Regions from separate parts of the Homo sapiens genome. Here regions 1, 2, 4 and 5 are each linked to region 3. Evidence: fine-mapped expression QTL. A gene starts in region 3. Each other region holds a variant in brackets. All regions are shown on one strand. Distances are from middle to middle.

Region 1 (6,344 bases), 31 kb after region 3:
ACTACTCATAAAACACTTTATAACTCAAATGCAATATGACCACTGGAAAACGTTTTATTAATTATGTTTTTATTTTCTGTATTTTATGATGCCCTTGAGGACCCAGAGAGAGACTGCCTCTCCCAGGGTTTGCTCATTCCTGGAGATCACCAGCAACTTGCCTGCCAGCAGGTCTTTGATATGCAAACCCACCAGGCTGGAGCGCCCGTGATCAGGATCCTGCAGTCTGGGACACTATCTCCCTGCCCTAATCATCTCAGGGCCAGGTGCCGGGCAGCTAGAGACTGCCCGTGTAACCAGAGCCTTCTGGAATCCCAAACTACCCAGGCCTGAGCCTGCCCAGCCCTCCCCCTGCCTCCCCATTCCTTTTCACCACTCCCAAGGATTTTGCCCAAGTTCTCCTCTCGTCCCCACCCCTGACTGACCTGGTGCTTCTCCACATGGCCCTGAGCGGGGTGGTATGGACTGCCCCTCCTCTTGGGAACTGTAACAAACTATCTTTTCAAAGACAAGCGTCTCCTGATCTGTTGGCCTTGTCGTGTCCAATTAAAATAAATCCTGGGTACATTTTAAAATCAGGGTCAGTCACCTCCAAGCTTTCAAAATTCCCAGATTATTCAGAAATATGAACAGCAGGCTCAAGTCACTGAGGATTTACATCCTCATTTTGCTAACAGATTTAAGACCACAGAGAACTTATTCTGTGAGCAGAGGGGCCACCTGGAGGGTGAATGGCATTTAAAACACACCATAATAAAGTCCTGGGATGGGATAGTCATGGCCTTAATGTTTCCTATGAGAGTTAAGAGGTCTGGATGAAGATGCTCTTCTGTGCTGCCTATTTGCAAGAGCGCTCATTTGTGGCCCCGAATGCAAGGTGAGAATCACCTCTGCCTGGGATGAGTTGGGAATGGAAGCGACACCCTCTAGATAATCATTTCTCACAGGCCTCTTGCTGAAGGTGCTCGGCCTCCCGATGCCCTTTCCTATCACAATGAGCACATACCTGGAGCTATGTCATGCATGGGCTGTGTGTACTCTTTCACGGAAAAGCTTCTCATCTTCCTTGCCAAAGGATGGTGTAAAAACTTTCAGGCCAGTTCACACCAGGGAGAGTCTATGCTGGACGCATTCATGCTGCTAGAACAATTCGACAACAGGAAATTGTCAGCTGATTTCTTAAGCTCCCGGGAGCTTACGAGGGGAGTCCAGGATCCCTCCTTCTGGATTCAAGCACTATACCAATTCACTTACAAAAGAGAAATGCTCTAGGAGAACAGGAGTTATGTACTGAAACATCACAGCAAACAAGGTAGTCAGCGCTTTCCCATGTCTGTGGGCTGGTCCTAGTGGCCCTTAGGAGGAGATGCTTGGTGGATTCCGTAAGTGCCCTGTGAAGCTCTCCTGTTTCCAGGCATGGCATGCTGGATCTGCTGGGGCAGGAGGGGTGGGTGGAGTGGAGACCATATGACACTGTATATGCCTATGCCTAACAATAGAACTTCTCTAGACCCTGATTTCCTGAATTTTGGGAGAAGCCATATTTCAATTACGTCTCAATGATAGGTGAAGTAGGGTGGTTGTAGGGAAAAACACATGTTGAGAATTGTCCCAGCAAAAAACAACCCCTGACCTGCCCTCCCAGTGTCAGGCCTGCATTCTCTCTGCTCCGTAACTGCCCACATGTATGGGGGGCTTACCAAGTGCTTAGTTCCACCCATGTGTCGCCTCTTCAGTCCTTACAGTGACTGTGTCAGGGTTATTATTACAGCTTATTAGCATGGAGCCTTACCCAGAGGTTGAAGAACTTATCTGAAGTAAGCGCAGTGAGAGTAGGGTATGGATTTGAGCCTGGTATGTGCCACACTGAAGCTCACACTCATAACCCAAACCACATTGCCCCAGTGGCCCCATATCCAGCCAAAATTCACCACGGGTTCCTTCTACACAGTGAGCGGGAGGGTCAAATTAAAAGATTTGTTACAGTTTGTTACAGTTCCCTTCTGGAAGCAATTCAGTTTCAAGCATGTTTTCCTCTCCGCAGAGGCAGCCATGACTGGCCACTTCATGTGCTCCTGGAGAAGGGCTTGCACCAGCCGTTTTCAGGAAAGTCAAGCAGCTGTTGACTCCTGAGTCTGGGTGAATTTGTGTGAAGAGCATAAGGCGCTGTTTCTTAACCAAAACGCTTCCTCTTGCAGTGCAGATGGGATGTGCTTCTCCACAGGAGGCCCCACGGCTTCCCCACCCCTCAGAGGAGCGCCGTGCGTGCGTCTGTGTGGAGGATTGGCAGCTCCTGCAGTCGGCCCTTGGTCCTATTTGGCGACGCCTCTGCCTTCCCCTTAATTATACAGTCATGAGCCGCCCTGGAATCACGGCAGCTCCGGATGGATCCTGGATGCCAGAATGCAGCCTCAGCACGGGGCTGCAGGACAGGAGTGAGCGAGGGGCTGCAGAGCCGGCGGCCGCGGTGGGCACCATGGAGGGGGCTGCCCTGGGCAGCACGGGCATGAGTCTCAAGGCCCAGGTTTGAGTAACAGGTGTTGAGAGCTTACTTACTTTTCCTGAGACACAGTTTCCTCATCTCGAGAGCACGGAAAATCATTCTAACTTCAGAGGATTGTTGTGAAAGTTAAATGAGATTAAAGAGGTAAAGCCCATGACGTGCTTAGCTCGTGCTTGGCTCTTGGTCAATGCCAGTTAGCGCTGCATTTTCTCCCCTCTCCCTCCCTCCTTCTCTCTTTCTTTTCTTCTATTCTCCATTCCTGTTTTCTCCCCCACCCCACTCCCCAAAGCTCTGCGTTGAGAACCAGATGCTGTCTGGTGGGTTAGGGCCAGAGGAGGAAAAGCTGCCCGCCGTGGGCTGCACCCATACCCTCTTCATTCCAATGACATGAGGGGAGGGGAAAGGACAGAGGTAGACTGTCCTCCCCTACCTCCTCCTAATACAAATGGAATTCCTGGAACTGGAAAACAAAGAATACCCCCATAAAAATAAGACAGTACTTCTGGTGCGGTGTAATAAAGGGGAAAGTAACCCTCAATGTCAGGAAACTCCGCACCTCCCAGCTCATATTTGTGTGGAGGAAAAGTTAAATATTAATTTGGACTCAACTGAATGTGGACACAAACAATGGTCACCAAGTCCCGGAACAGGTTGTGTGAGCCTCTTCAGGGGTTCATCCAGCGCTGTTTTGGAGAAATCTCTATTTCAATTTATTCCTATACGTTAGTTACTGAAAAACAACAGACAATCGCAAAAGCAAGTTGCCCGTTTTGTGTTCCTTGAGCCCAATCATGAAGTGCCGTCGTGACTGGGCCTCATGACAAACAACTTGTAACAAGTAACAACAGAGCTCAGGTCCCAGACCGCACTGAAGCTCTGTGAGACCTCTCCTCATCTGTGCATGAACGAGTGTCTGACTCTGGAGCCCAGCCTGCTGCTTCCCAGTCTGGTGGTGAATCCTCCGTAGTCTGGTGAGTGTAAATATATATATGTCTTTTCCCTTCTCCCCTTCCCATTGCAATTTGCT[T/G]ATATCATTTGCGTATTATATCTGCATTACCATTTATGTGAGATAAAGCTTGTTCACCCTTAAGGGTATTGTGTGTGTGTCTTTTCTTCTCTCCTAGTGCATTTTCCTCACAGAACAATTTGAAACCAGAGGTCCTTACTGCTGCTGGCTTACTCTTTCCAAATATTAATTTCCTTTTTTCTTTTTTCTTGAGATGGAGGTTTGCTCTTGTTGCCCAGGCTGGAGTGCAATGGCACAATCTCGGCTCACTGCAGCCCCTGCCTCCCAGGCTCAAGCAATTCTTACGCCTCAGCCTCCTGAGTAGATGGAACTACAGGTGAGCACCACCATGCCTGGCTAATATTTCGTATGTTTATTTTTTAGAGACGGAGCCTCACTATGTTGGTCAGGCTGGTCTCAAACTCCTGACCTCAAGCCATTTGCCTGCTTTGGCCTCCCAAAGTGCTGAGATTACAGGCATGAGCCACTGTGCCCTGCCTTCAAGCAATAATTTTCTATTATGAATAAAATTGATGAGCTTCGCCAGTTTCTGGTGCCCATAAAGTTGTTGCTTTTCATTACCAAGGTTAACAGCCTGCTGGTGATGCGGCCTCTGGCAGAGAGCCTACAGGGAGTGGGACTGGGCAGATGCTGCTCGCTGGGGCAGAGGGGAGGTGAGGAGGAGGTGCTCACAGCTGACCTGCATGCCTCTGCCTGGCCCTGGGACCCCAAACTCCTGCTCCTTTCTCCTCGCATTCTGCCAAGCTCCCCCTGTGTTTGACCTCCGGCTTGAAACTTCCTTCTCTGATGACTCCTGAGCAGGCAGTGTGAGCCCCAGCAGTATCCTCCTAGCACCTGAGCACAGAGTCTGTGCCTGAGCAGAGTGTGACAAAGGAGGCGACCGGGTGATGCAGCACAGTGCAGCGGGCTTGGGGCCGGGAAGGTTTTCTGAAAGGTGTGATAGTTAAGCGTCTAGGCTGGGAACTGCAGGATGAGTAGGAGTTAGTCCAGTGAGATGGAGTGGGGGTGAGGAGGAAACCTTCATGCAGGGGGTGTGCAGCTGCACACGCCTTGTTCTGAGCCCAGGAAGAGCACGGTGTTGAGGTGCTGAGCACTGGGGGACAAGCTGGAGGGGGCACAGGGGCATCTGTGACCTTCTCCGGGCCTTGGGACAGATTGCTGCAGAACTAGGGCCTCCTCCATGTCTCTTTTGCGTCTTTTCTCACAGGACATCCCTCTAGGCAGGGGATTGGCAAACCAGGCCCTGCTGGCCAAAGCCAGCCTGTTGCCTTTTTGGTAAATAAAGTTTTGTTGGAATACAGCCATGTTCTTTCATTTACACATTGCCCATGGCTGCTTTTATGCTGTGATGGCAACATTGAACACCTGCAACAGAACCCGTATGGCCTGCAAAGCAAGAATGTTTACTATAAGGCTCTTTACAGAAAAAGCAGGTTGATCCTGCTCTAACCTCTGCCTGCTGCTTGCAGCAAACCTTCCTCATCTGGGCCTCAAATATTTCTGTCCTTTATTCTGGTGCTTTGAGTCTATCTGTAGCTCAGGGTAAGGTGTTGAGAATTAGTAAGATTACAAACTGCAAAAGCAAAGGTTTGGCTGTTAGAATACTTATGTTTCGATCTTGGCTTGACCTAGTCATTAGTGATTATATAATAATAATAATGCTACTAGTAATAGTAGTAAATGCAGGAATAGTTTCTATTTATCCAGCAATTATTATGTGACAAGTTTGGAGCTGGACTTTTAAAATATATTATGTCATTTAAATTCTCACAAAGAAGTCTTGGATATAGTTTTTTTTTTATCCCCATTTTGCAGATGCTAAAATTGACACCAAAAGCGTAGGTGATGAGCTTGAATCAGGTAAGAATTATATTCTACTTCCAGCTAAAGAAGAGGATATAGAAGATCAATAGCTTAAACAAAACAGAAGGTTTGTTTCTCACCCTTCCTGTAATAGAAATCTGGCAATGAGCAAACATGGTAGTATTTATATTCTGAGTTCTTGTCACATTATTTTCATTTTCAGGTCTTCTCATGGACTAAAACAGTGACAGTGAGTGCAACTCTACCTATCATGTTCATATTCTAGGTAGAAACTGGGGAAAAGAGAAAAGGCGGGAAAAAGGCGTTTCTCTACAAAGATCACACATAATCTTCTGTCTGCATCTCATTGGTCGGCATTTAGTCACATGGCCATAACTACCAGCAAGGGAAGCTGGGAAATGTAGTTTTTCAATGGCACATTGCTACCCTTAATAAAATAAGGATATGCTACCAACAAAGAATGAATATGGGAAAGGCCCCTAGCAATGTCTGCTGCATCTGCCACTGTGGTTTTCTCTGATTTCCACAGACATTGCTCTTCCACATAGAGCGCATTCTGATTCCCAAGCCACCACTCCCAAATCACACCCAGTTTCTGCATCTAGCTTGTGTGTGGGCAGTCTGCTCCATCAGTCCCAGATGTGGCTTCTCATGGCTGGTGACCTATGAACTAAAAGACAGGCCATTTTTTTCCCAACCTACCCTACCTTTTCTCCTTGAGAGGAAAGATAAAATAACCACAATTTAAAAATGTCAATCTTCCATTCAGAAAAGGGAGGAAAGAGAAACACAGAGATCACTGGTTTACAGTGATGGACCCACCCTGCTAGGCAGGAGTGAAAAGGCCTCTCCGTCCGGCAGTGGACTGGGTTCCTTGGCTGGCCCATGTGGTCCCCACCCACTGTCTCCAGGAGCATCGCCTTGAACTGTGTCTTCATGGCTTTTGGCTCCGCCTTCAGAAGGGTCCTCCCTGTCAATCATCCTCCATTG
Region 2 (6,344 bases), 47 kb after region 3:
GAGAGGTTTTAAAAAAGAGACAAAAGCAGGACGTTGCCTCTCTTCCTCCTCTCCACGTGTCCTACCCGGATGTGAAGCCAAAACAGATGCAGGCTTAGTGCAACCATGGGGAACCCAGCATAAGCACAGATTCAACAGCAGAAGAGTGGCAGAGGGAGAAGGTGAAAGGAACCTAGGTTTTCCTGTCCTTGTTGAGTCATTCAGTTAAAAATCCCTGGAATTTTCCTCTCTCCGGCAGTGTGTTTTGTGGGATAATGAGTTGCCTTATTGGGGTTGGCTTGCTAGTCGGGATGTTTCGCTCCCATCAACATCCATACGCTTGCTCTGTGAACCAATGACCTGATGAGGTAGTATTAGCACCACCATCATTATGCTGAGGATGAGATTTATGGCACAGTGGTTCAGTAGCTTGCCCAAGGCCATGCGGCTGGTAGGTTCTGGAGGAGGGCTCAGGGCACCCCCTGAGCTACCCCTGCTGGCCATTGCACCACCCCATAAAGCTGCTGGCAGTCACTTCTCTGAGGGGTTAGCATGTAAGAAATGTCCTCCTGAATGCTGGCCAGACAAATGGAAATCTGCCAGGGTTGGGTACCCCCATGACAGCAGCCAGCCTGCCCTCTTAGTCCCTGACAGCTGCAGTGACAGCATCTGTGATTGCAAAGCGTGACAATTTATATCTCTCATTTCATCACACCATCTATCAGCAGACAGTCAGGCTTTAAAAATCAATCCCACACTGACTCAGTCCCCAGCAGAGATGGCCTCTGACAACAGTATCCACACTGCAGGCTGGACAAGGGCCCTATTAATTTTGAGACTCAGCCAAATTTCCTTCTGACCCTAAGCTGGTGAATCCCTGCTCCTTTGCTTTGGTTGGGGTTGGTGTGAGCTAAGGCTGTGATCCCATTTGCTCCTATGGCCTCCAGGTGGCCTGGGCCTCCATGAATGGGCCACATGGTCATACTGAATGCTTGATTACACTCAGACCTAGCAGTCGTCTGGGCGCAGCTGGTTTATGGATCACTTTGTCACAATGTTCCATCCTTCCAGGTCCCCATCCCCGCGGTGGGAAAACATTGCTTTAGGCAGTGCTAGAGGACTTCAGCAGGCATTGGCAGCTTCTGGATTCAGGATTAGAACAAAGAAGGAGGAGTCACAGCAAAGATAGGAACAGAAGGCAGAGAGAACAGACAGATGGGGGTGTTTGAGAAGGAGGGCCTTTGAGACCTCAGGGAGTGGGAGACACTGGCTCGAGAATAATAATAATGGCAATTTCTCTCATCTGTGTTTTCAGGGCATGGACTGGAACTCCCAATACCCCTGACATGGGCTGAGTCAACGTGGTCATGAACATGTGACAGGTAGCAATGACAATGGCTATCTCTTCTTGAGTCCTTATTTTGTGCCATCACTTCATTAATTACATAGATGATCTCATTTGATCCTCATAACAACCCTGTGAAGTACATACTATTACTGCTTCCATTTTATGGATGAGTAACTGAGACCCAGTGGAATTAAGTTAGTTTTGCAAGGTCATATAACTGGTAGACATCAGAGCCTGGGATGGAACACAGATCTTCCCTTTCCAAGTTTAATGGGCTCCCAGCTAGCCTAGAGAGATGGTCCTGTTCCTGAGCCCTTAGGATAAATTTGCCTCTCACATCCAGAAGTTGGAAGAAATGCCAGAGAGTTGCACCTTTCATTAGGAGGCAGAGAGAAGAGTCCGTGACCGGGATTTGCTTGTGCAGTTGTTTATTAACTACCTGGGCATTTTGCTGATGGTGCAATTTGCAGAGCTGTTAATGGTAATGAAACTCCTGTGACTGTCAGGAGACACAGGGGAAGCCAAGGAGAAGTGAGAGGTGGCTGCCAGGTCCCTGAGCTGCCCTTTGCAGGGATTAATGAGGTCTGTGTCTTCTCCTGCTTTAGACAACTCCCGAAAATGTCAGGTGCCCCCTAGACTGTCCTGTGAGCCTGTCAGCCTCCCTTCCTGCCACACCAGTCATTGGAGGAGAAACTGCCATGATGTTATGCCTTTGCCGTTCCCTCCACACTTGAATTTGGGGCTCTGAGGGCTGTTCAGGCACACGTTGTATAGTTCCAGAGCCAACTTTGAGTCCAATCGCTGGACCTCCAAAATCATGCTTATTTAATGGCCTGTGTTGCTTTGTACAATAAGGGTTGAGAATCAATCAAATCCATAATGAGGGGAAGCTAGATTCTAGGCATTCAATGTCCATTCAGGTCCTTACAAGCTATGTATGGCTGTGGAGAAGAGGGAAATAGGAGAGTGCATGCACCAGCGGAGAGCCTGAGCTGAGCTCCCATCAAGCAGCCTCAAGCCTGGGCTCCTAGGGTGTGGGTTCTGAACGGTGGTTAAGCTCAGAGCCCTGGGGCCCTGCCTCTTCAGGGTTAAAGGAGCTGGAAGAGGCCACAGCAAAAGCTCGCAAAGTTGTCCTCCACTCTCAGCCCAAGGGTGTAGGTCTGCATCATTCCTTCCACTGTCACTGAGCACTTTTCGTGGGTCAGCCACTCCTCCAGTCTGGGGAAAAAGCACTGTTTAAGATGCAGGGCTGGAGTCCAGGAACTCCGTCTGGTGGCAGAGGTAGACAGGCAGCCAAGTTCATTTAAGGAGGAACAGTGGTGGCCACTGCTGGGAGGGAGTACCCAGGGAGGAGAAAGAAGTACCCAGGGAGGAGAGAGAAGTCCCCAGGGAGGAGAGAGATGAGAGGCAATGATTCCACCTGCGGGGGTCTGCAGAGCCCTCAGAGGGTTGCCACTGGGTGGGTGGGGGGCACTGAGGATTCCCCCAAGCAGAGAGATGGGGAAGAGGTGGTGGAGGGTGAGGGAAAGAAGGTGGGTTTCACAGCCTCAGAGTGGGCACAAACCTTGATTCTGAAAGATACTTGCTGTGAGACCTGGGCATGCTCATGAATGGGCCCCAACTTCAATTTCATCAGCAAAAGAAGGGTGAGGCCCATTTTTTGTGATTGCAGTCAGCATGTAATGTGGATGAGGCATCGATCCATGTGAGCACATTTCTCTGAATGCTGGTTTCTTCTCTACATTCCAGGAGGCAGCAGAAGTTGCAGAGAAGAGTGAGGCACGTTTGAAAAAGGCTGAAAAATGTTTCTGTCCAGGCAAGGGTGTGTGCTGAATGACTCAAGGATTTTTTGGGTATGTCATTTCCCATTTCTCACCCTCAAATAGGACTCCGCTTCCCATCTAAGCATTTGTATAAATATTGATTATTGGTTAGTGTGTATCAGAGAGCTATTGAGTAAAAATTATATCAGAAAAATTAAGAATCTCTAGAGATGGCAAGGTGTGAAACAAAAAACGCCAGGAAGGTAAATGCTCAAAGTTCACCACACACCACAGTGAGAAGTGTTGGGGGCCCAGGTCTCTGAGGCTGCCCAGAGGGGCTCAAGGTTTGTAGTGAATACAGGAATCAGCTGGAAGCTGTAGGCCATGTGACCCTTGGACCCCCATTCCAGGAGTAGTTGAACACGTCTGGGCAGGACCC[C/T]AGAATCTGCATTCCCAAGGGAGTGCCTGGTGATTCTAATACAGCAGGGCCTGATCCACCCTGAATCCATTGCCCATCTCCATCAAAGCTTCCTTTCACCAGTCAAGCCCCTGGCTGGGGAAAGGTCTGGAAACAGAAGTGGAGAATAAAGTTCTGGGAAGAGTTCTATCCCCATGGCCATCCTGCCAATAGGAAGCCTGCCAATGTCGTGGTCTCAGGGGTGTTGGGTGTGGCCCAGCTGGAGAAGCATCCCTGGGGGTGGTCAGGAGGCTTCTGGCTTCTGGGCCCTTCTGCAGCCAATGCCTAAGGCAGCGAGGCCAGCCATTCCTAGAGAGCCAACTCTCAGGCGGGGATCAGCTCCCACACACAGTGGGACTCGAGGGGCACTGGAGAGCTCCTCTTTCCAGAGTATCTCCCCCTCCGGCCGGAAGTTCTGTCTAACCGATACGGGTTATCCAGAGTATCTCCCCCTCCGGCCTGAAGTTCTGTCTAACCGATACGGGTTATCCAGAGTATCTCCCCTTCCGGCCGGAAGTTCTGTCTAACCGATACGGGTTAAAATCCTGAAGGCCCCCTGCCAGTGTGCAGGCATGATGTCCCAAAGGGGCAACATCTTAGACCAGCTGCACTCAGAGAGCTGCTCTAAGTAGAAGTGAGCCGGGCTCCGGAGCTGTGGACCAGGACACAGAGGGAATGACATATTCAGATTCAGTCTGAATCAAGAAGAAAAGTGTCCAGATGGGCATGAGTTATTTTAACCTGATGCATTTAACCCACTATTTATTTGGCTCTGAAATTGGTTCTGTGGAAAGACAGTTTCTGCTCCTACCCGGAGCACCCAATTAGTCACAATACTGGGAGACTCAAATCCATGTCAATAGGAACGTTGTATAGAGGGTGGTTGAAGATGAGGGCCTGGCATCTGGGTGAAGTATTGATGGATGTGCAGAATTCTAATGGCAGAAGTGAGGTATGTGTGCATGGGCGGGTGCGTGTGTGTGAGTAAGGTGAGGGTGTGTCTCCAGAGGAGGCAGTGGCCTAATAAAGTTCAGTTGAACTGAATGAAGGATCCTTACAGGAGGCAGTTAGGCTTGGGGCTTGAGGAACTCCTGAATGCCAGATTCAGAAGTCTGTACTTCTAGGGGAGCAGCTGGGGTTTCTGACCCAGAGACTGACATGTGCTTTGAAAAGCTGATCTGGTGGCGTAAGATTGGAGAGGGCCTGATGATGGCAGCACAGAGAACAGTCATGAGGCTCTTACAGCTGTCTAGCGTGGTGAAAGCTTGCCCCGGCAAGTGGCCTTTGGAGAAGAAATACTCTCAGGTAGTACTCACTAAGTGCCTGCCATATGCAGAGAGTTCACACTGGTAACTCTAATCGTAGCAATCAGCCAGTCGGGTGAAGGCGATTCCCACCGTTCATTCTTCCAACTCAATATGCATTGAGCGCTTCTTTGATCCACTTGTGGGATAGACACGGCCTTCACTCTCAGAGAGCCGACCTTCTCATATCTTTTGCATGGCTCTTTTCAGAGAGGAGAAAACTGAGAGAGAAAACCAGCAACTTACTCAAGGCTCACCAGCTAGTAACTGATGGGGTGTGGATTCAAACGTGTGCCTTGCTGGCTGCAAATGGCCTAAAAACACTCCCTGATATTTCCTGATCATTTCCTGGACAAGGTGATATGTGGATTATTATTTATGTGCTATCATTTGATCATCCTAACAACTTTAATGACGGAGGTATTAATTATAACCCATTTTTAGATGATGAAAGTGAGATGCAGAAAGGTGAAGCTGTCCAAGTCACAGTGAGTGGAAGAGCCAAAATTAGATATTTGTGTCCAGGCACGGAGGCTCATGCCTGTAATCCCAGCACTTTGAGAGGCCAAGGTGGGTGGATCACCTGAGGTCAGGAGTTTGAGACCAGCCTGGCCAACATGGTGAAATCCCATCTCTACTAAAACAAACAAACAAACAAACAAAAATTAGCCTGGCATGGCAGTGCACACCTGTAATCCCAGCTACTTGGGAGGCTGAGGCTGAGAATCACTTGAACTAGGGAGGCGGTGGTTGCAGTAAGCAGAGATTGAGCCACTGCCCTCCAGCCTGGGTGACAGACTGAGACTCCATCTCAAAGAAAAAAAATAGTTAGATCTTTGTTTCCAGGCCATCTGATATCAGAGCCTTACTCTTAAGCATTGCACTATCCAAAGATCCTCTCTCCCTCCCTCCCTTCCTTCTTCCCCAAAGAATTCAATATGGTTTTGGCAACCGTGTGCAGTGTGTGTGTGTAGGTGGTGGTGGGGAGGATAAAAAGAGAAGAGTCGAAGGTGGTGCTGGGTTCTCAACCCCGTGCCCCTGGCAGATAGGGAACCGGGAAGCAGAGCAGGCCTGGGTGGAGGTTTGGGGAAGGGGAGCCAGGAGGGAACCCTAGTGTGTGGCCTTGGGGATCCAGGGGCAGCAGAAGGATGTGGGTCCTCTGGAGGAAGAGAGACCGAATGGAGAGGAACCCTGAGTGGAAGACTGTTTTCATCTGTGGCCTGTATTCAGACAGCTGCAGACTGAGGTCCTGATAGGAGAAGGCATTGTCCAAGAACACACTGCTGGACAAGCTGGGGGTGTTGCTCTGACAATGAGAAGAATTCTGGATCGGGAAACAGGACTAGCTCAGGTGTGGGAGAGGGGCAGCTGCACGTCCCCACATGCGGGCTCCCTGTGCACAGGCAATGTGGCATATCTGAAGGTGCAGCCCCTGCCTTCAAGCCTCCATCATCTTCTCCCCAGGACAGGGATGACTGTAACTTTCTAGGCAC
Region 3 (6,344 bases):
ATGCAATTGTCACCACAAACACAGCCCTCACATAAGCAGGAAACCATGATCCTGTTGCTAAGGACTGTGATGGAAGTGACAGATTTAATCCAAGAATAAACTCCTAACTCTGTGGTCACAGTCCCAGGTGTCCTAAACTTTGGCTCTCGTTGACCTTGTCCTCTTCTGGAATATGCTCCCCTTTCCACAGGTTACTCCTTATGACCTCCCCTTCTTCGTGTAGTCTTTCCTGATCACCCCAATTCAAACAGGCGTTCTTCTCCAAATTTTCTGGCACTTACCAAGTGAAACACTCATTTGACATTTATCACATTTTGTCCTTTATGGCCAGTTATTTGTTACTGTGTTTGCATTGCCCTTGCCAATGTGATGATAATACTGTCCTCTTTCCATAGAACACTCTCTTCTCCCCTTTCCAGCTGTCCAACTCCTACTGAACACTCCCAGGCGCAGCTCAGTAGTCACGCCCTTCCCTGGGCACCCACAATGGCTTTTTGTGCATCATAATTTGAGTCAATTAATCAGAATGTATTCCCTATAAGGCTAGAAAATCTATCTGCCTTGTCTTAGCATCTCTGGAGATGTCTAGCTCAGTGTTGGGGTCAAATAGGTGAGGCCATCAAATATGGAGTCAATGAGTGAATAAGGAATGAATTGAGGGCATTTTGAGGATGTCTTTAACGTGTTATAGATTACAGGTTGGCCATGTTATGCTTTCTTTTCATATTGCATACAGAGTACTATGCACATAGCAGGTGCCTAATAAATATAAATTGCTTTATTAATTGTGATATATGTAATGATAACTTTGTTATTAACATTATTGTTCAATACTGCCATCCCTGCAAGTAATCTGTCACAAAGAAGCAGGGGCTTGGTCCATTTCCCTCTCACCCTTAGAGAGGAGAACTTCCTTCTGGGGCCATGTCTGTCCAGAGAAGACCCTTGTCTGCATCTGGGGGCAGGGCCCCTTACTTTTGTGCAGACTCGGTCCCCAGGCGGGCGCCTTCATGACACGCCTCACAGGAGGCATGACTCCCACCCAGGGCGTCACTCCGTGTGGCAGCCGCAGGTGGCAGGGGCAGACGCCTGAGTCTTCCTACAGTCTGTGCACCTGGATGGCACGTGTACCTGTGGCCCGTAGAGACATATTGGAGCAGCAGTCAAATACCTGAATAGTCCTAGAGGGTGGAGAGCCCATTACTAATGGAGAATGCCTATTTTCCCATCCGACTTACCTGCTAAGACAGGGGTCTGAGCTCAGGACCTAGTATCAACCTAGGTGGTTTCTGCCGACTCTTTATCAGGAAGCAACGGCTCCTACTTCCCTCCTCCTGCAGAGTGGCGTGGTCTGCACCCCACAGTACCTCCTCCAAGCATCTCAGCAAGGAGAGAAAAAAGGCACAACAAAACAAAACCCAAATATCCAGTTTAGCAGAGCCGCGCTGTCCAACTGGCTGTATATATCCTGACTATTTCGGTCCCTTGTCTTTTCCCCCTGAGTAAAGCTGTTCTTTTGATCCCAGCAACTCTGAGAGCAGCACGGCACTGAGATAACTTTTTATAAAAGTTGCTGGGGCATCATAGCCACAGAGAGGTCCAGCCTCTAAGACAGCGATCCTGCTGAGAGAACATCTCCCAGGCTTTCTCTTCCATCCTTGGTGCATGGGGCTTGGCTCTTGTGCCCGGTCAGAGGCAGTGTGTGAGGTGGGTACAGGTGCCCAGGGTTCCCAGGGTGGTCCCTGGGTGGGACCTGGCTGGTAGTCTCAGCCCTTTCTGCTCCTGGGAAGGGTTTGGGTCATGCCATTGTAATGTACAAAAAATCCTGTTGGTTGGGGGCGGGGGGCAGGCACCGTGGTTCACACCTGTAATCCCAGCACTTTGGGAGGCCGAGGTGGGTGTATCACCTGAGGTCAGGAGTTTGAAACCAGCCTGGCCAACATGGCAAAGCCCCATCTCTACTAAAAATACAAAAATTAGCCGGGCACGGTGGTGGGTGCCTGTAATCCCAGCTACTTGGGAGGCTGAGGCAGGAGAATCACTTGAACCCAGGAGGTGGAGGTTGCAGTGAGCCAAGATCGCACCATTGCACTCCAGCCCAGGTGACAGAGCGAGACTCTGTCTCAAAAACAACAACAATATCAACAACAACAACAACAAACAAAACAAAAAAACCCTGGGGATATATCTGGGGGCCACCAGAAAGGGGCTCAGGGTAAAGGGATGAGGAGATGGAGTGGGAGATTGCAGTGCCTGGGTGATGGGAGAGAGCAGGGGAGGGCGGGTCGGGGGAACCACTGCTGATTTCATAGGGAAGCAGCTGGGATGGGGCAGAGGAGCGAGAACTAGGATGTCCCATATACAATACAATTGCATATTGGACATACAACCCAGACAATTCCTTCTTCTATCAAATCCACCATCCTGGAGAGTAAAGCTGAAAAGCTGATGACATAAAGTCTGTCTGGGATCAGGCATGATTCTGCGTGCCCAAATGGAGCACAGATCCCTTCCTTCCCAGGGTTCCAGGCTGGCTCCTCAGCCAGGCTCATGGTGTAGGGAGCTGGTCTTTCTTGGCCCTCACTGGGACCTGGCTGTCCATGAGTGGGTGGAATTCTGAAGCCTACCTCTTCTGGATCCCTTTGGCTACATCCTTTATTCATGGGCCATGCCCTTCCTTCAAAGGCTTCAACCTCACACAGATCTGGGCTAGAACACGGGCTTGCCCCATATGTCTTGACAGCTCACCGAACCTTTCTGAGCTTTTATTCTCTTACCTATTTAATGAGAGTGGTGTGTGAGGGTCCACCAGGTAATCTGAGTGATGCCCCTCGCTGCCTCTGTCCCCTGGGGGTCATTCTGCCCAAAGGGGTGCATAGCGTCAGGACCACCAACTCCTCCCAGAGCACTGAGGTCCCTGCTGCCCAGTTAGTGGGTCCCAGGGAAGCCACGTGGCATTTGGAGTGGCATTCCAATCTTGCACTTTCAGGGCCCCCTCTGTGGTTCTGAGAGGAGGAAACAGCTCTAACCTTGGTGATCCCGACTGTGCTGGGCCCTGGGTTGTGAGGCAAATGGAGGGCAGAGGCCCTGGGGGAGGACACGTCCCTCACCACAGTCACTCCCCAGTGCAGCAGTCAGGGGATTTCCCAGGGTGCACTGGGCCAAGGGGCCAGACTCTGAAGTTCATGGGGTTAAGGTCTCCCCGCCAGCCAGGTGACGGCAGCCTCCTCGCCTTGCCCAGACAAGAAAGCCTCGATCTAATCTCACTCTGAACTTTTCCCAAGGCTTTTGCTACGCTTTGCTGTAGCTCCAAAGCCGCATTAGTGAGCACCACGCTCCTTTATAAATGGTCTGTGACCCCAGAGGTCTGCTCGCTGAGGGAGCTGTCTATTTCGGGCATTGTGGGTGGAGGGGGCATCTCAGAGGCTTCTGGAAAATTCCTGATGGGATTGTGTCTGTGTTCTGTCTCAAGCCTCCAATCAACAGATCAGACAGCTTGTACTCACAGGCCAAGGACACGTGGAAAGAGGCTCAATTTTCTAGATGGGTGGCAACAGCCATGATCTTCTGTCCTCTGGGTCCCCACAAGCCTGGATGAACTCAAGATCTGACTCAGTGGCACAGTGAGGAGACCTTTGAGGCCTCAGTGACCATCCTTGGACTTCACCTCTCACGGCTTTCAGGCAGAGAGGCCCTCCCATGCCCACAACAGGCTGAGCCCAGCCTTCCTCGGGGTTTGCTTCCAGGCCTGACTTTTACTCCCCTTTCTAAGTGGTAAGTAGCTTGGTGATGGTGGCTGAGAAAGAAACAGAGAAAAAACATACCTTACAGGCAGAACTGTCATAGTTCTCAAAAGACCAAAGTCACAAGGGCCTGTGGGTGCCTGCACGGCTGCCCAGAGGGAGGGTGACGCCAGCCACAGGCCCATTGCCTTTGTAGGCCAGGGTCCTGCAGTGCTGGCCCGCAACGCTTGATGGGAGGGGGCGGCTCTGTCTACGTGTGAAGAGCCCAGGGTGGCTGTAGCTTGCAGCGGATGGCATTCTCAGTTTGCCCGTTACTCCCCAGACAAATCTCCCTCTGGCCCCTTTTCCTTTCTGTCTTCAGTGGGGGTCGGGAGGCGGCAGCCCCAAAGACCTCTCCTTACCACCTTGTCTTTCCCATGGAGGTTCCCATGCAACACTTGTCCCTGTCCCTGAAATTTCAGACTTCTTTCCACAGCGCAAAGCCTCGGGCCTTGAGAAACTGCAGTGAGCAAGGGGAACCTCACCCCCAAGCTAAGGCAAGAATGCTGGCTCTTCCATCGCTCCTAAGTTCCAGGCTGACCTCTTCCTCCAACTCAACATATTCAAAATGAAACCCAGCGTCTTTAGCTCACCCTCCTTCCCCGCTGCCCCTGCCAGGGCCATGGCCACACTGACCCACACCCCCCGGTCACACCTCCAGGCCTGGCAGTAATATTGCCTGGACTCCTTGAGAACTGCAACCAGATTAATCGTCCCAGAGCTCCGCTTTGATAATATCACTTTTATAGACACATGAAAGGAAGCATTTAGGCAGTCAGTCATGCTAAATCTTAACCACCTTTACAGATTTTTTAGTGCAGCCCATCAAAATTGTCACCAGTCCTGAAGGTCCCACATTTATGGTGTCCATGATAACACCTCCCATGCCAGAGGCAGCAGCACTTGGAGGTGGTGCAGAGCTGGCACTGCAGGAGCTGTCCTCGCCAGGCCTGATCTCACAGCCAGGGCTGCTTCTCCTGGTTCCGCACAAAGCCCATGGTGACCTCCTGCACCTCCCACTCCAGAGGCATAACTGAGCAGTCTGTCTGGGCACCATCAGCACTCCTCTGCGAGGTGACAGATTACAGCTCTAAAGATGTTGGGCCGTTAGGCATTACCTTTCCAGTCGCTGGGTGCAAGGGGGCCTGGGAGTCCTTGGCAGGGGCTGGCATGGGCAGGCTGGTCGGGCTTCAGCAGCAGCTGTGGGCCAAACAGCATGGGAACAGTTGTACCAAGGCAGAGATTGGACTAGAGGGGAACAGGAACAGGACCAACAGTTTTGATTCGCGGGCGTTGCGTTCCAGGTGGTTGTTTTCTGTGAAAGCCCCATTGATGTCACAGTGACGTATAGTAATAATTAAAAAGACAGCACTTGTAAAGACATAGAGACAGTGATGAATAATCACAATTTGATGAGCTTTGTGGAGCTGGACTCCCTGAGTTCAAAACCTAGCTTCAACACTTACTGGCTGTGGGACCGCCCGACCTCATCTCCATTTCCCCGGGAAGCCTTCCCTGCCTGCCTTAGTGTGCTGTCAGCTTGGTGTCTTCTGGTCTCCCAGGACTGACCTGTTGGGTCGTGTACTTGGTGTTTTGTGTATGGCTTCTGTGGTTGCGTATACACTCACGTGCATAAGACGTGTTTTCCCAACTAGTTTGTCATCTCTGAGCGCACAGACTTGATTTAAATTTCTTCTTGACCCTGCAGTGCTCCCGGGAATGCTGTCTACTTGTTGCGATTTTACTCCCGTGGCCTGTGCTAGCTGCCTGCTTGGCCGTTGGGACTGAAGGGATGCTCATCCACTTGGCACACTGACTGCAAGCCTGGCACCGGCCTTGCCTTTGTTCTCCCATGAGTCCTCTTGAAGGCAACCCACTTGTGGTAGGAGGCGTAGAGTCCAGCAGGGCTCTTGCCCCTTTTGCCCTCCTGAATCATGGAGGAAGAGCTCGGTTCCTCGTCCATACAGTGGGAAAAACAAATGAGCAGTTACCTTGGGCAGAGTCCACAGTCCAGCCTGCTTGGCTGCCCGGGGGGAGGTGCCGACTGCAGAAGGCGTGGGCCCTTCCAGGTGTGGACTCGGCCCCTGGGCAGTGCGACCTGTGGCCTCCTTACCAATGAAGAGGAGTGGAAAAGATGCTCTCTCTGCTGCTCACGGCAGCCTCAGCCCACACAGGCTGCTGGCATTTCTGTGCTATTAAATAATTAACTTGGTACTACATGGAGTGAAACGCGCATTGGTCTGGTAAAAGGCCTCAATTAATTGCTTTCATGTTAGCTGTGTACTGTGTCTCCAGGAGGAGATAAGAGGTGGGAATGTGGGTTTTGAAGCCAAGCTGAGAGACACCCTCACAAAAGGTGACAAGTACCCCTCTTCCCATGTAGCTGGGTCTGTTCACTGACGCAGTGCAGAGGTGGCAGCCGTTGCCAGCTTTGGCTCTGGTTGTCTTTTGGGGAGTAGGGAGGGGGATGTGGGACCCAACTCCCTGTTGATGGATGGTGTATGACTGGCTGCCTCGAATGGGCCGACCCAGGCTGTGACAGGTGGTGGCAACATTGGGCTG
Region 4 (6,344 bases), 11 kb after region 3:
AGGCAAGCAGAGCTTCTCCAAGGGGACATCACTGAGCTAGCCATCCTCAGGGCCTCTGTGTATGTAGGGTGCATCAGAAAGCCCCCTAAAGAATAGAGTAGAGAAGTCCAGAAATGCCCCATGGGCATTAATATGCTCCCTGAGTGATTAGAGAGTGTATTAGTCTGTTTTCATGCTGCTGATAAAGACATACCTGAGACTGGGCAATTTACAAAAGAAAGAGGTTTATTGGACTTACAGTTCCACGTGGCTGGAGAAGCCTCACAATCATGGCAGAAGGTAAAAGGCACTTCTTACATGGCAGCGGCAAGAGAGAGAATGAGAGCCAAGGGTAACGGGTTTCCCCTTATCAAACCACCAGATCTTGCGGGACTTATTCACTACCATGAGAGCAGCATGGGGGAAACCTCCCCTATGACAAACCACCAGATCTCGCGAGACTTACTCACTACCACGAGAGCAGCATGGGGGAAACCTCCCCTATGACAAACCACCAGATCTCGCGAGACTTACTCACTACCACGAGAGCAGCATGGGGGAAACCTCCCCTATGACAAACCACCAGATCTCGTGAGACTTACTCACTACCACCAGAGCAGCATGGGGGAAACCTCCCCCATGGCAAACCACCAGATCTCGCGAGACTTACTCACTACCATGAGCGCAGCATGGGGGAAACCTCCCCTATGACAAACCACCAGATCTCATGAGACTTACTCACTACCACCAGAGCAGCATGGGGGAAACCTCCCCTATGACAAACCACCAGATCTCGTGAGACTTACTCACTACCACGAGAGCAGCATGGGGGAAACCTCCTCTATGATAAACCACCAGATCTGGTGAGACTTACTCACTACCATGAAAGCAGCATGGGGGAAACCTCCCCTGTGATTCAGTCATCTCCCCCTGGGTCCCTCCCACAACACATGGGAATGATGGGAGTACAATTCAAGATGAGATTTGGGTGGGGACACAGAGCCAAACCCTATCAGAGGCTTAGGACTTTGAGCCCCTGTGAAGGGAAGCCGGCCTGGAGACTCATCTTGGTAAAAACATTTTTTTTTCCTTTTTGAGACATAGTTCATTCTTGTTGCCCAGGCTGGAGTGCAGTGACCTGGTCTAGGCTCACTGCAACCTCTGCCTTCCAGGTTCAAGCCATTATCCTGCCTCAGCCTCCTGAGTACCTGGGATTACAGGTGCCTGCCACCATGCCTGGAAATTTTTTTTGTATTTTTAGTAGAGACAAGGTTTCACTATGTTGGCCAGGTTGGGCTTGAACTCCTGACCTCAGGTGATTTGCCCACCTCGGCCTCCTGATTACAGGCGTGAGCCTTGGTGCCTGGCCTCATCTCGGTAAAAACTTGAGCAACACCATTAGATGAGCTCGCAGGCTGCTGAGCTCCCAGGCTGCTGACCATGTGCAGGTGCTGGAGAGGGGCACCCAGAGAGGGTGCAGCAATGTGCGTCCTCCACAACCCCCACACCTTGTGCACCTCTGCATCTGGCTGCTGTTCTGTAGCCTTTGTAATTGTGAACCAATATTCAGTCTGTATAATCAACTGGCAAACCTAAATAAAATGTTTCTCCGAGTCTGTGAGCCGTCCTAGCAAATGATCAGATCCATCGGGGGGTTGTGGGGTCCCTGATTTATAGTGAGTTTGTCAGACACACAGGCCCTAGTCTGACACTTGCAAGTGGCATCTGAAGCAGGGCAACCCCGTGTGACTTAGCCGGAAACCTGTGGGATCTGATGCTATCTCCGGATGACAGTGTCGGGATTGAATTATTGAACACCCAGCTGGTGCCCACTGCAGAATTGCTTGGCATGCAGGGAAAACCGCAAACACATCTGGTCACAGAAGCATTCTATGTTGAGTGTGGGAGAGTTCGTTTTTCCCTTTTCACAAAGTGACTTGCCCAAGAACCATTTCAGTAGCCCAATCTTGTCGCCTACTCTGGAACTCACTGGGTGAGACAGGGCCAGCAGTTGGGAGAGAAAGGGCTGGTGGTGGTGGTGGGTGGGAGGACACCCAGGTACACATTCAGTGAGCTAGGTTCAGAGAGACAAAAGCGGCTGCACTTGCAGAAGGTGAGAAGGCGAGCTGAGCCTTTGACAGGTGTCGGCAGGTAAAACCATGGTATCAACAGCTGTGCTTTGAGCTGCACGAGTGAAGGTGGAGGAGAGGGTGGCATCCCAGCATCGTGCAGTCCACCTGGGTCTCCAGAAGAGGTCCAGATGGGATCAGAGACGATGCTGCCAAACACAGGGCTTGAGAGGGTGTTCGGTAAATATCAAAGAAACATTCTACATAGTCTTCTTAGTGAGGAAGAACTGGAGCTGGCACCACAACCATACAGTGTCTTTATAGTCACTGCATGTCGCCTTGTGGGAGAAACTATGTATTTCCCCTTACAGAATGTGGCCTCAGGCATTCTCCAGAAACCCTTTTGCTATCTCCCTAAAGTCCTGAGTTCAACAGCCCCTCTAGTTATTATGATCCATAGACCCCTGGGCTCCAATCCCTACTGGATAATGAGTCAGGGTAAAAATACTGAGAATTTTTTTTTTTTTTTGAGATGGGGTCTTGCTCTGTTGCCTAAGCTGGAGTGCAGTGGTATGATCTCGGCTCACTGCAACCTCCGCCTCCCGGGTTCAAGCGATTCTCCTGCCTCAGCCTCCCAAGTAGCTGGAATTACAGGCGTGCACCACCATGCCCAGCTAATTTTTGCATTTTTAGTAGAGACAGGGTTTTGCCATGTTGGCCAGGCTGGTCTCGAACTCCTGACCTCGTGATCTGCCCGCCTTGGCCTCCCAAAGTGCTAGGATTACAGGCCTGATCCATCGGACCCAGCCAAATACTCAGAATTTTAAAGTAAAACTGTAATTTGTAAGGACTGCATTTGAAGAAGGGAGAAGTATCCTCTCCAGTCAGACTCTGAGGACCAACACATACCCACTTCTGAACGCATGACGATTACAGGCTTTTGCTCATACAGAAGTTCAGTTTGAGACCCCTGCAGGCGTTCCCTGCAGTCAGCTGTCGTGAGAGGCCTTGTGACACTTGGGCTGGAGAGGAGATGACCTGTGATACTCATCAGGTGAAAGGGAGATACAATATTTGTCTAGTAACATCTTTGAGGCCGATAATGATTTCATAGTGTTTATCCAGGGGAACAAAACATTCATACCCTTGTTGTTAGTTGGGACTTTGACTTTCTTTCACCTGTTTCTTTTTACTATTTTTTTTTTTTGAGACGGAGTTTCGCTCATTGTTACCCAGGCTGGAGTG[C/G]AATGGTGTGATCTCGGCTCACCACAACCTCCACCTCCTGGGTTCAAGTGATTCTCCAGCCTTAGCCTCCCAATCGGCTGGGATTACAGGCGTGCACCACCACGCCCAGCTAATTTTGTATTTTTAGTAGAGACCAGGCTGGTCTCAAACTCCCGACCTCAGGAGGTCCGCCTGCCTCAGCCTCCCAGAGTGCTGGGATTAGAGGCGTGCGCCACTGCACCCAGCCTAGAGACTTTGACTTTCTCTCTCTCCTACTGGTGTGAAGCCGTGCCTCATTCAGGGAGGTATGTGTGCCAGTTTCCTCTTCAAAGGATTCCTACACCCAGAAGAGGAGAAGCAGAAGCAGTCTTCAGGTTCTCTGCGTGCGAGCTGACGCAGCTTACTTTGGGCCAGGTGCACTGGATGCGCCCTCGCTCCCTCCGTGGGGCCCTGGCTGGTGTCGGAGCCCTAGCGCAGCCATCTCACAGGTAGAAACGCCCGCGCGGGGCGCTCACTGCCTCGGACTCGGCCCTTCCGCTGCGAGGCCCTGCTGTCTCGGGTTCCCCCATCAGTTTTGGGTAGGATTATCAGAACCCTTCCCAGGAGCGCGCTTGGAGCGCTGTGGACACTATCCTCTCCTAGCACAGGTGGCGCGGTGGCTTGGGCCACTTGCTGGCTTCATTCCCTGGCTGGTGTACACCAGGGCAAGCCGCTTCACCCCTCTGCTCCTTCTCATCGCACCTGCGAGCTGGGCACGATGGCAGCACACCCTCGATATGTTTGCTGTGTGGGTTAAATGTGGTCACGTGTGTGGGGCTTTAGGCCAGTGGCCACCACATGGCAAGACCTCAGTCATCACTTGGTATAAATGTGTCTCCTTAGTGTGGTATAGTCATTTCCTTCCCGAATTTTAGTACCTTTGCAATAAGAACATGCCACCACTCCTCACAGTGGCTTTATCTAGGTGTTGGCCATGAAGAGTGCCCATTGCTGGCACTTGAGTAAACATCAGAGGCTCCAGCCCCAAAACTTGCAGAATGGGTGTCAGTGGCCTAGAAAACCACCCAGAGGACAATACAGGTGGATTTTCTAGGCCCTAGCAATCAGACAGCTGTGGGTGATAGTGAGTTAGGCATGCTTAGTAATATTCCCAAAGCAAGAGTCAAAAGTAGGCTAGCTCTACATAATTGCAAAACCCACTTAAGTGCTCCCAGTGGCTTCTAGTTCTCATATTGTTTCCTATAAAACACGGCACCAGCCAGACTTGTGATGCAGAGACAACATTGAGTGGAAAGATCTGAACATCACCAGCTCTGAATGCAAAAGTGGTACAGCAGACTTTGATTCTGAATGTGAACTTTTAAGAATATCTTACCTTACTTTACAGATATTTTTTCCTTTTACCTATGTAGAAGAGTATATATAAGAAAAAGTTGGCTCACGCCTGTAATACCAGCACTTTGGGAGGCCAAGGCGAGCGGATCACAAGGTCAGGAGATCGAGACCATCCTGGCTAACATGGTGAAACCCCCATCTCTACTAAAAATGCAAAAAATTAGCGAGGCATGGTGGTGGGCACCTATAGTCCCAGCTACTTGGGAGGCTGAGGCAGGAGAATGGCGTGAACCCAGGAGGCGGAGGTTGCAGTGAGCCGAGATCACGCCACTGCACTCCAGCCTGGGCGACAGAGCAAGAGTCCGTCTCAAAAAAAAGAAAAAGAAAGAGCATTACCCAAATAAGCCCAAACAACTCTTTGAATAAATATAAAATAAAAATTGTCATAAGAATGCCTCATGTCCTACTTTAATTGGCAATCTCTTTTAAAATAAGTAGCATGTAAAACAATGCAATACATTTGGGAGTGTCTTACAAAAAGAATTCAGGCTGATATGCTAATGTTTCTTTGGGAGTTTATTGTGTCAGCTTGGCTGGGCTATGGTGCATGCTGTTTGGTCAAACACTGGTCTGGATATTGCAGTTGGATATTGTAGTTGTGATTAACATTTACAATCAGTGGACTGTAAAGAAATAAAACAGATTACCTTCCATAATGTGGGGTGGGGGACCTTATCCAGTCAGTTGAAGGCCTTAGGAACAAAACCTAGGGTTTCTTGAAGAAGGAGGGATTCAACGCTTACCTAAATTTCCAGCCTGCTGGCCTGCCCTATGGATCTCAGACTTACAACCCCCTGTAATTGCTTGAGCCAATTCCTTAAAATAGTTCTGTTTCTTCGGAAACCCCTAATATAATCTTTTTAAATAGGTTGGTTAGAATTGAGCAGTGTGACCCATGTAAAACAAAGTTATATTTAGAGATAACTTGCTTTTCTTTATGCAGACTATCTTTTGCACCAGCTTTCTAGGTGGCTGGTTGCTGCCTACCTAGTGACTCTCACTGTCAACTCAACCTTTTCCCTGTGCTCATGTGACTGGCTTTTGCAGCCCCATGTGCAGGACCTTATATCCACCCCAAGCAATTTCCTTTTCACAAAATTTGATCAATTACTTTGGGCATCCTTCACTACTCAGGGGGACATCCTCTGGCGCCACCTTCCTGTCTGTGGCAACGGTGGTACCTGGAAGGACCCAGGTATGTGCCCCTGCAGGTTCAGGTGAGGTGGTGCCACTGACATCATCACTACCAGGCATGGAGCAGTCACCTCGGGTCCTTGCAGTGCAGCCCAGGGTCTCCGGAGTCAGTGGCTCTGGGCTCGGCCGCACATGGGCAGCGATGAATGAGCAGTATTAGTGGTTCTTCCAGCACAACCCATCATCCCTCAACAATGCATTTCTGGAAATTAATTAGAAGCCACACAGTGGAATAACGAACACCATGTTTAGAATTACAGTCTATCGCTAAACGACAGCTCAGACAGCCCATGGCTGCCCATAACCCTGGATGTCTTGAGTGTCTGCCCCCAGTGCCTGTTGAACCCTCTTTAGTGACTAACCTGCAGAGCGGGTCTGGATGGCTTAATCGCTTCTGAGGCTGGGATGCTACCTGGGCAGGGGCAGGAGCTAAAGGAAGGAGGAAGTGGACTCAGCACCTGGAGAAGGGAAACTGCTGGTGCC
Region 5 (6,344 bases), 23 kb after region 3:
GTAGGCCAATGCATGTCTTTTTTCAGAAAGGGTTGAGATTAGTGGTTGGATCTTCCTTCTCTGCACTTGGGGTGGGTGCTTCTCCAGAGGCTGCAGCAGCAGTTCTGCAGAGCCTCAGATGGCCACTGTGTTCCTCTGGGCATGCTTGACAGGGACTCCTAGAGCACTCGAGGATTGCCAAAGTAATTTCGAGCGTATTGAAAAATGCCATGATTTCTTCTGTTTTTGCCGCTTGATTAAACTTAGTTTCTCATTTTTACCTATATTGACTTATATTGCTGGAAGTAAAACAGAATCTCAGGAATCAGTGTGATGCGTTTGACAGATGCTGTTCTGCTGCTGAGTGATAGTCCCACGAGGGCTGTGAACTTTCCCCCTTCCAACCCCCCTCTCCTACCACCATGCGGTCTCCAGGCTCAGGAAGGGGTTCTGTGGTCTTTATCAGAAATGGAGGTACTGCAAGGTCTGGTTTTCTAGCCTGATGCTCCATTAACTACCAAGAGTGAAGAAACAGCCTCATCCTGTCGCTTAAGTCCATCTTCTCCCATGGGATTTCTTCCACTTTTGAGGAGCTCAAGCTCTGTGGGCCATGCGAGCTCTCCTCCTTTGTGAGCATACATGTTCCCTCATTTGTCAATATCCACTTAGAAAGGCGAGAGGGGTCTTTGTCTTTAGAAGACAATGCTGGCAGGTGGGAGGAGTGGGGGTTCAGAGGCCCTTCTGTTAGTGCGTGTGGGAAGGGGCAACCTTCTTTGCAGTGTGAGAGGTTTGTATTCTTGTCTGTTACAAATCTTCTCTCCCACCGTGATCATAAATGTAGCCTGTGCATAGCCTTCCCTTCTGTTTCTCTTCTACCCATCTCTAGTTGGTCTATTTTCAAGGTATTCCAGGACATGAAAAGGCCTCAGTGAGTGGTAATGTCTAGGAGTGCAATGCGACCTAAGGGACAGAAAAATCACTTAAGGGATAACCTGCTTGGAAAACAAAATAAAGCTAAACAAAAAACCAAAACCACTGCTTCACTGTGACTCAAACCTTGGCTTTAAATGGCTATCTTTCCTCCTAAGACCTTTCATAAGTGTGCTGTCATACCACCCTTGCATAAGGTCTCTGTCTCTGTGCTGTCACACCACCCTTGCCTAAGGCCTCTGTCTCTGTGCTGTCACACCATTCTTGCCTAAGGCCTCTGTCTCTGTGCTATCACACCATCCTTGCCTAAGGCCTCTGTCTCTGTGCTGTATCACACCATCCTTGCCTAAGGCCTCTGTCTCTGTGCTATCACACCATCCTTGCCTAAGGCCTCTTTCTCTGTGCTATCACACCATCCTTGCCTAAGGACTCTGTCTCTGTGCTGTCACACCATCCTTGCCTAAGGCCTCTGCCTCTGTGCTATCACACCATCCTTGCCTAAGGCCTCTGTCTCTGTGCTGTGACACCATCGTTGCCTAAGGCCTCTGTCTCTGTGCTATCACACCATCCTTGCCTAAGGCCTCTGTCTCTGTGCTGTATCACACCATCCTTGCCTAAGGCCTCTTTCTCTGTGCTATCACACCATCCTTGCCTAAGGACTCTGTCTCTGTGCTGTCACACCATCCTTGCCTAAGGCCTCTGTCTCTGTGCTATCACACCATCCTTGCCTAAGGCCTCTGTCTCTGTGCTGTGACACCATCGTTGCCTAAGGCCTCTGTCTCTGTGCTATCACACCATCCTTGCCTAAGGCCTCTGTGTCTGTGCTGTCACACCACCCTTGTCTAAGGCCTCTGTCTCTGAGCTGTCACACCACCCTTGCCTAAGGCCTCTGTCTCTGAGCTGTCACACCACCCTTGCCTAAGGCCTCTGTCTCTGTGCTGTCACACCACCCTTGCCTAAGGCCTCTGTCTCTGTGCTGTCACACCATCCTTGCCTAAGGCCTCTGTTTCTGTCCTGTCACACCGTCCTTGCTTAAGGCTTCTGTCACTGTGGTGTCACAGTATTTTTGCTGCCGGAAAACACAGATAGGGAGAGAACTTGTAAAGATAACTTCAATAATAGTACACACTTTGGCTGGGTGCAATGGCTCACGCCTGTAAACCCAGCACTTTGGGAGGCTGAGTCGAGTGGATCACGAAATCAGGGGTTTGAGACCAGCCTGGCCAATATGGTGAAAGCTCATCTCTATTAAAAATGCAAAAATTAGCTGGGAGTGGTGGCACGTGCCTGTAGTCCCAGCTGCTCGGGAGGCTGAGGCAGGACAATCACTTGAACCTGGGAGGTGGAGGTTGTAGTGAGCCGAGATCACACCACTGTACTCCAGCCTGGGAGACAGAGTGAGACTCCGTCTCCAAATTAAAAAAGAAAAAATAGTACACTCTTGGATAATTATTTTCAGATTGCAAAACACTATTATTCATTATATAATAAGTGTTCCTCACATCAACCCATTCATTGTAATTCTCTTTTTACAGACCTGGATTTGGTAAGTTATGTTGATTTATTCATTTAGGTATGTGTTCATTCATCTATCCAAAATACATTCCCTGAGTCTATAATATGTGCATATTATTGAGCTGACGTATATCAAGGATGCCCTCTAAGAGCATGTAAACTTGTGGTATTAATATTAATAATGTAATAATTAGTAATATTATATGAATAATATTTCATATTAACATAATAATATGAAAATGTAAAACTAAAAATAGTATAGCATAAGAAGTGTTGAGGTGGAATTTGCTGTGGGATTGCACAAAAAGGGGAATGAAATCAGGTGGGAACTGTGAGAAATGTTTATAGGGTGTAGGACTGTAGGACTGGGTTTGGGACCTAGGGTTGTTCAAGGGTGGGCTGATGAGGCTAAAATGTTCTGTGGGAACTGTGAGGGAGCAGGTTTTGAGGTGCCAGGCTCGGCATGTGTCATACTGGCTTGGAGGATGCTTGAGGGGAAGCCAGGGCCTGACCCCTTGGGGCAGC[A/G]TGGGAGAAGTAGGAAGTGAGGATGGCCTGGTGAGCTGGCAGCCCCTAGTCAGCTGGTGCTGGGTGAACATGGAAGCACAGAGTGTGTGCTTCTTTCCTCTGACCACAGCTACCTTGTTCTTGGAAAGGTCCTGTTTTATAAGCAGGGACATGGAGGCATGGGGAAGTCGCGCAGCTCCCACCATTGCCCTGGGCTTGGCAGCAGTGAGACATGGCCAGCAGCCACCCTGCACTCTGGCCTGAATGCCCAGCTTGTGCAGATGTGCAGCGGTAGTGCAGGGTCAGTGCCCTCTCATGGCCCCCTCGCAGGAGGCTGCTTGCTGAGTGGTGCCAGCTCAGCCAAGTGTTCTCTGCATCTTTGCTCAGGCTCTTCTTTCTCAGAGGGCTGGAGGAGGTGGATGATGCAGAGAGCTTCCCTGTGGCTCCCGGCCCTCCTCAGGGCCTGCCCGGGCAGGGAGGTGACAGCAGTCCCTGACAGATCCCACCCTTCTCCCACACAAAGCGGGCCAGGGGTGAGGAAAGGGGTCCCTCCAGCCCTTACCTCTGAGTACTTGCCCTGCAGAGCTGCTGCTGTTATCTGTCAAGGCTGATTTCTCTGAGGTGACAGCTTTGACTTCAGATCTCCTTCTTTAATTGAGTCTTTGTCACTCCATTGATGGTAATTTACACATCCAATAACTATTGCTAATGTGGGATGGAGGTGTAGGGATGTTGGCTGGGGCGAGGGAGCTGCTGAGGCTGAGACCTGATGGGAGGAGCCTTGGAGGCTGGGCTGCTGCAGGCTGTGCTGCCCCAGGCTCAGGCTAGGGTGCTGCACGGTTCTGTCTCTCATTTGCCAAACATTTTCTGAGCTCAAACTCAGTGTAAGGAGGGCGAGGATATAAGAATGAATGATAGAAGGTCCTTGTTTTCGAGGACTTTCCAGTCTCATGAGAGAAAGAGACATACACAAATAGCTAGATTGGAGACTGCATAGGTGGTCAGTCACAGGCGCGTCTGCACGCTGGGTTCTGGGAGCCGAACAGCCACCTGCAATTCAACTATATTCAATTTAATTGAACCATCTGTTTTGGGCACCTATTTCTGGGTGAGCCCAGTGGAGTGATGGGCTGGGGGTGGGGAGGAACAAAGGCACAAAGACTGATGCTGCTTTCCTCCCTGCTCTCTCTTGCTCTCTGTCTCCCCACCCCCGGCTCATTCTCATCACTCTCTCTCCGTCTTCCCTCCTGCTCTCTATCTGTGGCATGCACTCTACTCTCAGCTCTGTGCTTGTCTCTGGGGCCAGAATGGTGAGCTGAGACATTGTCTGTCCTTGTGGAACTTACTGAAGTGTGTGGGAGACACAACCATTCATCAAATAAGCACCCGTAAATGTAATGGGGAGCTGTGCTCAGGAGGGACTCAGGGAGCTCTGAGCATGACCCACGGGACCCAGGCTCATCTGTGGGCCTCAGGGAGCTGGGCATGCACCACAGAACTGTGGAGCAACTGAAGACCTATTATTTCTTATTGCAGATATAAATATTATATTTATACATTGGTATATATATACTTTATATATATTTGTATAAATTAAGTTGTAACCTACAGAATAGGCCTTCTGGCAATGAGAATGTATCTGCTCAAAAAGCTGAACAGCCATGGAAAATGGAAATTCACTCTCTGAGATTTTACATATTCAAAGGAGTCCGGAAAAATACTGAACAAAAACATGAATGAATATTTGTATAATCTTTGGTGGCTAAGGCCTTCCAGAAGCACGAAGGAAGATAGATCATTCTGATCACATAAAATTGTAAAGCTTTAGAAAACCACAAACAAAGATGGAAGACCACTGAGAACCTGGAAGCCTTCTGCCTCACACATGGCATGCTGGTGGTGATGCCAGGCTGGTGAGGGCTGCACAGTTTGTCTTCGAGTTAGAACATGACAGCCCACCCACACCAGCTGGCAGACAGCTGCCTGTCTGAGTCTCCCAAGGCTGTGGACCCTGCCACTGACTTCCCTGGGACCAGCTCTACCTTTTCCCACATTCAGGAATTTATAGATTAATGTCTGCTGTGGTTTGAGTGTGTCCCCCAAGGTTCATGTGTCGGAAACTTAATCCTCAATGCACACTTTTGAGGGATGGGATCTTTAAGAGGTAATTAGGTCATGAGGGCTCAGTCTTCATGAATGGATTAATGCCATCATCTTGGGAGTGGGTTAGTTATCCTGGGAGTCAGTTACTATCTCAGGAGTGGGTTAGTTATCCTGGGAGTGAGTTACTTGTCTCAGGAGTGAGTTAACTATTCTGGAAGTGAGTGAGTTATCCTGGGAGTGAGTTACTATCTCAGGAGTGGGTTAGTTATCTTGGGAGTGAGTTACTTACTTCAGGAGTGGGTTAGTTATCCTGGGAGTGAGTTACTTGTCTCAGGAGTGAGTTAGTTATCCTGGGAGTGAGTTACTCACCTCTGGAGTGGGTTAGTTATCCTGGGAGTGAGTTTACTTATCTCAGGAGTAGGTTAGTTATCCTGGGAGTGAGTTACTCATGTTGAGAGTGGGTTACTTATTGTGGGAGTCAGTTACTCACCTTGGAATTGGGTTAGTTATGATGGGAGTCAGTTACTTATCTTGGGAGTGGGTTAGTTATTGTGGGAGTGAGTTACTCATCTTGGGAATGGGTTAGTTATCACGGGAGTCAGTTACTTATCTTGGGAGTGAGTTAGTTACTGTGGGAGTTAGTTACTCACCTTGGGAGTGAGTGAGTTATTGTGGGAGTCAGTTACTTATCTTGAGAGTGAGTTAGTTATTGTGGGAGTCAGTTACTCATCTTGGGAGTGGGTTAGTTATCATGGGATTGGGCTCCTGAGGAAAGGATGAGTTCAGTCCCCCTTCTCTGTCTCTTGCTCTCTTGCACTCTCTTGTCCTTCCACCTTCCACCATGGGATGACACAGCAAGAGGGTGCTTGCCAGATGAGGTCCTCTCGACCTTGGACTTCCCATCCCCCAGCACTGTAAGAAATGAATCTCTGTTCTTTATCAATGACCTAGACTGTGGTATTCCATTGCAGCAGCACAATACAGACTCAGACAGTGACTTCAGGATGCTGCTCCAGTGCTGCAGCTGATTTCCATCCTAATGGGTTGATGTCCATGCCACATAATTGTCAAAACACCTTGACTTTCACCCTATCCTTAACATAGTATTATTGAATACTTACTATGTGCCAGGCACAGGCTTATGGATGTTGGACTCGCTAACACATATAATGCTCACAACTCTAAGAAGGAGATATCATTACCATAATTACTATCCAAGATTACAAATGAACAAACAGAGACATGGAGAGCTCAACTCTTGCCTGGGCTTATGCAGATTTAAAAACATGACAGGAGGTTGAACCTGGACAGTC

Which allele goes with the higher level. Alleles are on the strand shown, and positions count from the first base shown. SD is a standard deviation of normalised expression in the study named. Not every link is listed here.
With allele T in place of G in region 1, the expression in spinal cord of the gene that starts at base 3,472 in region 3 is higher (small effect, 0.38 SD a copy in GTEx).
For the expression in hippocampus of the gene that starts at base 3,472 in region 3, G is the low allele of the variant in region 4 and C is the other (small effect, 0.35 SD a copy in GTEx).
With allele G in place of A in region 5, the expression in prefrontal cortex of the gene that starts at base 3,472 in region 3 is lower (large effect, 0.94 SD a copy in BrainSeq).

Evidence for each region. PIP is the estimated chance that this variant, and not a neighbour inherited with it, causes the effect.
Region 1: its variant is fine-mapped to the expression of B3GAT1-DT in spinal cord (GTEx, PIP 0.91).
Region 2: its variant is fine-mapped to the expression of B3GAT1-DT in cerebral cortex (GTEx, PIP 0.91).
Region 4: its variant is fine-mapped to the expression of B3GAT1-DT in hippocampus (GTEx, PIP 0.97).
Region 5: its variant is fine-mapped to the expression of B3GAT1-DT in prefrontal cortex (BrainSeq, PIP 0.95).

Annotation. Positions count from the first base shown.
Region 1 is chr11:134,464,142-134,470,485 of GRCh38, forward strand. B3GAT1-DT (B3GAT1 divergent transcript) reads left to right here. Exons shown (of 6, transcript NR_033852.1): 2 at 2,199-3,474; 3 at 3,724-3,846. Among named protein-coding and RNA genes, the nearest start is that of B3GAT1-DT, 31 kb to the left of the region's middle. RefSeq lists enhancers at 1,857-2,422, 2,423-2,987. The variant T/G (reference allele first, on the strand shown) is at 3,531.
Region 2 is chr11:134,479,551-134,485,894 of GRCh38, forward strand. B3GAT1-DT (B3GAT1 divergent transcript) reads left to right here. Exons shown (of 6, transcript NR_033852.1): 4 at 1,295-1,361; 5 at 3,077-3,180. Among named protein-coding and RNA genes, the nearest start is that of B3GAT1-DT, 46 kb to the left of the region's middle. The variant C/T (reference allele first, on the strand shown) is at 3,530.
Region 3 is chr11:134,433,011-134,439,354 of GRCh38, forward strand. It overlaps B3GAT1-DT (B3GAT1 divergent transcript), which reads left to right and starts at 3,472. Exons shown (of 6, transcript NR_033852.1): 1 at 3,472-3,774. RefSeq lists an enhancer at 6,032-6,344.
Region 4 is chr11:134,444,041-134,450,384 of GRCh38, forward strand. All of the region lies in intron 1 of B3GAT1-DT (B3GAT1 divergent transcript), which reads left to right. Among named protein-coding and RNA genes, the nearest start is that of B3GAT1-DT, 11 kb to the left of the region's middle. The variant C/G (reference allele first, on the strand shown) is at 3,294.
Region 5 is chr11:134,456,220-134,462,563 of GRCh38, forward strand. All of the region lies in intron 1 of B3GAT1-DT (B3GAT1 divergent transcript), which reads left to right. Among named protein-coding and RNA genes, the nearest start is that of B3GAT1-DT, 23 kb to the left of the region's middle. The variant A/G (reference allele first, on the strand shown) is at 2,950.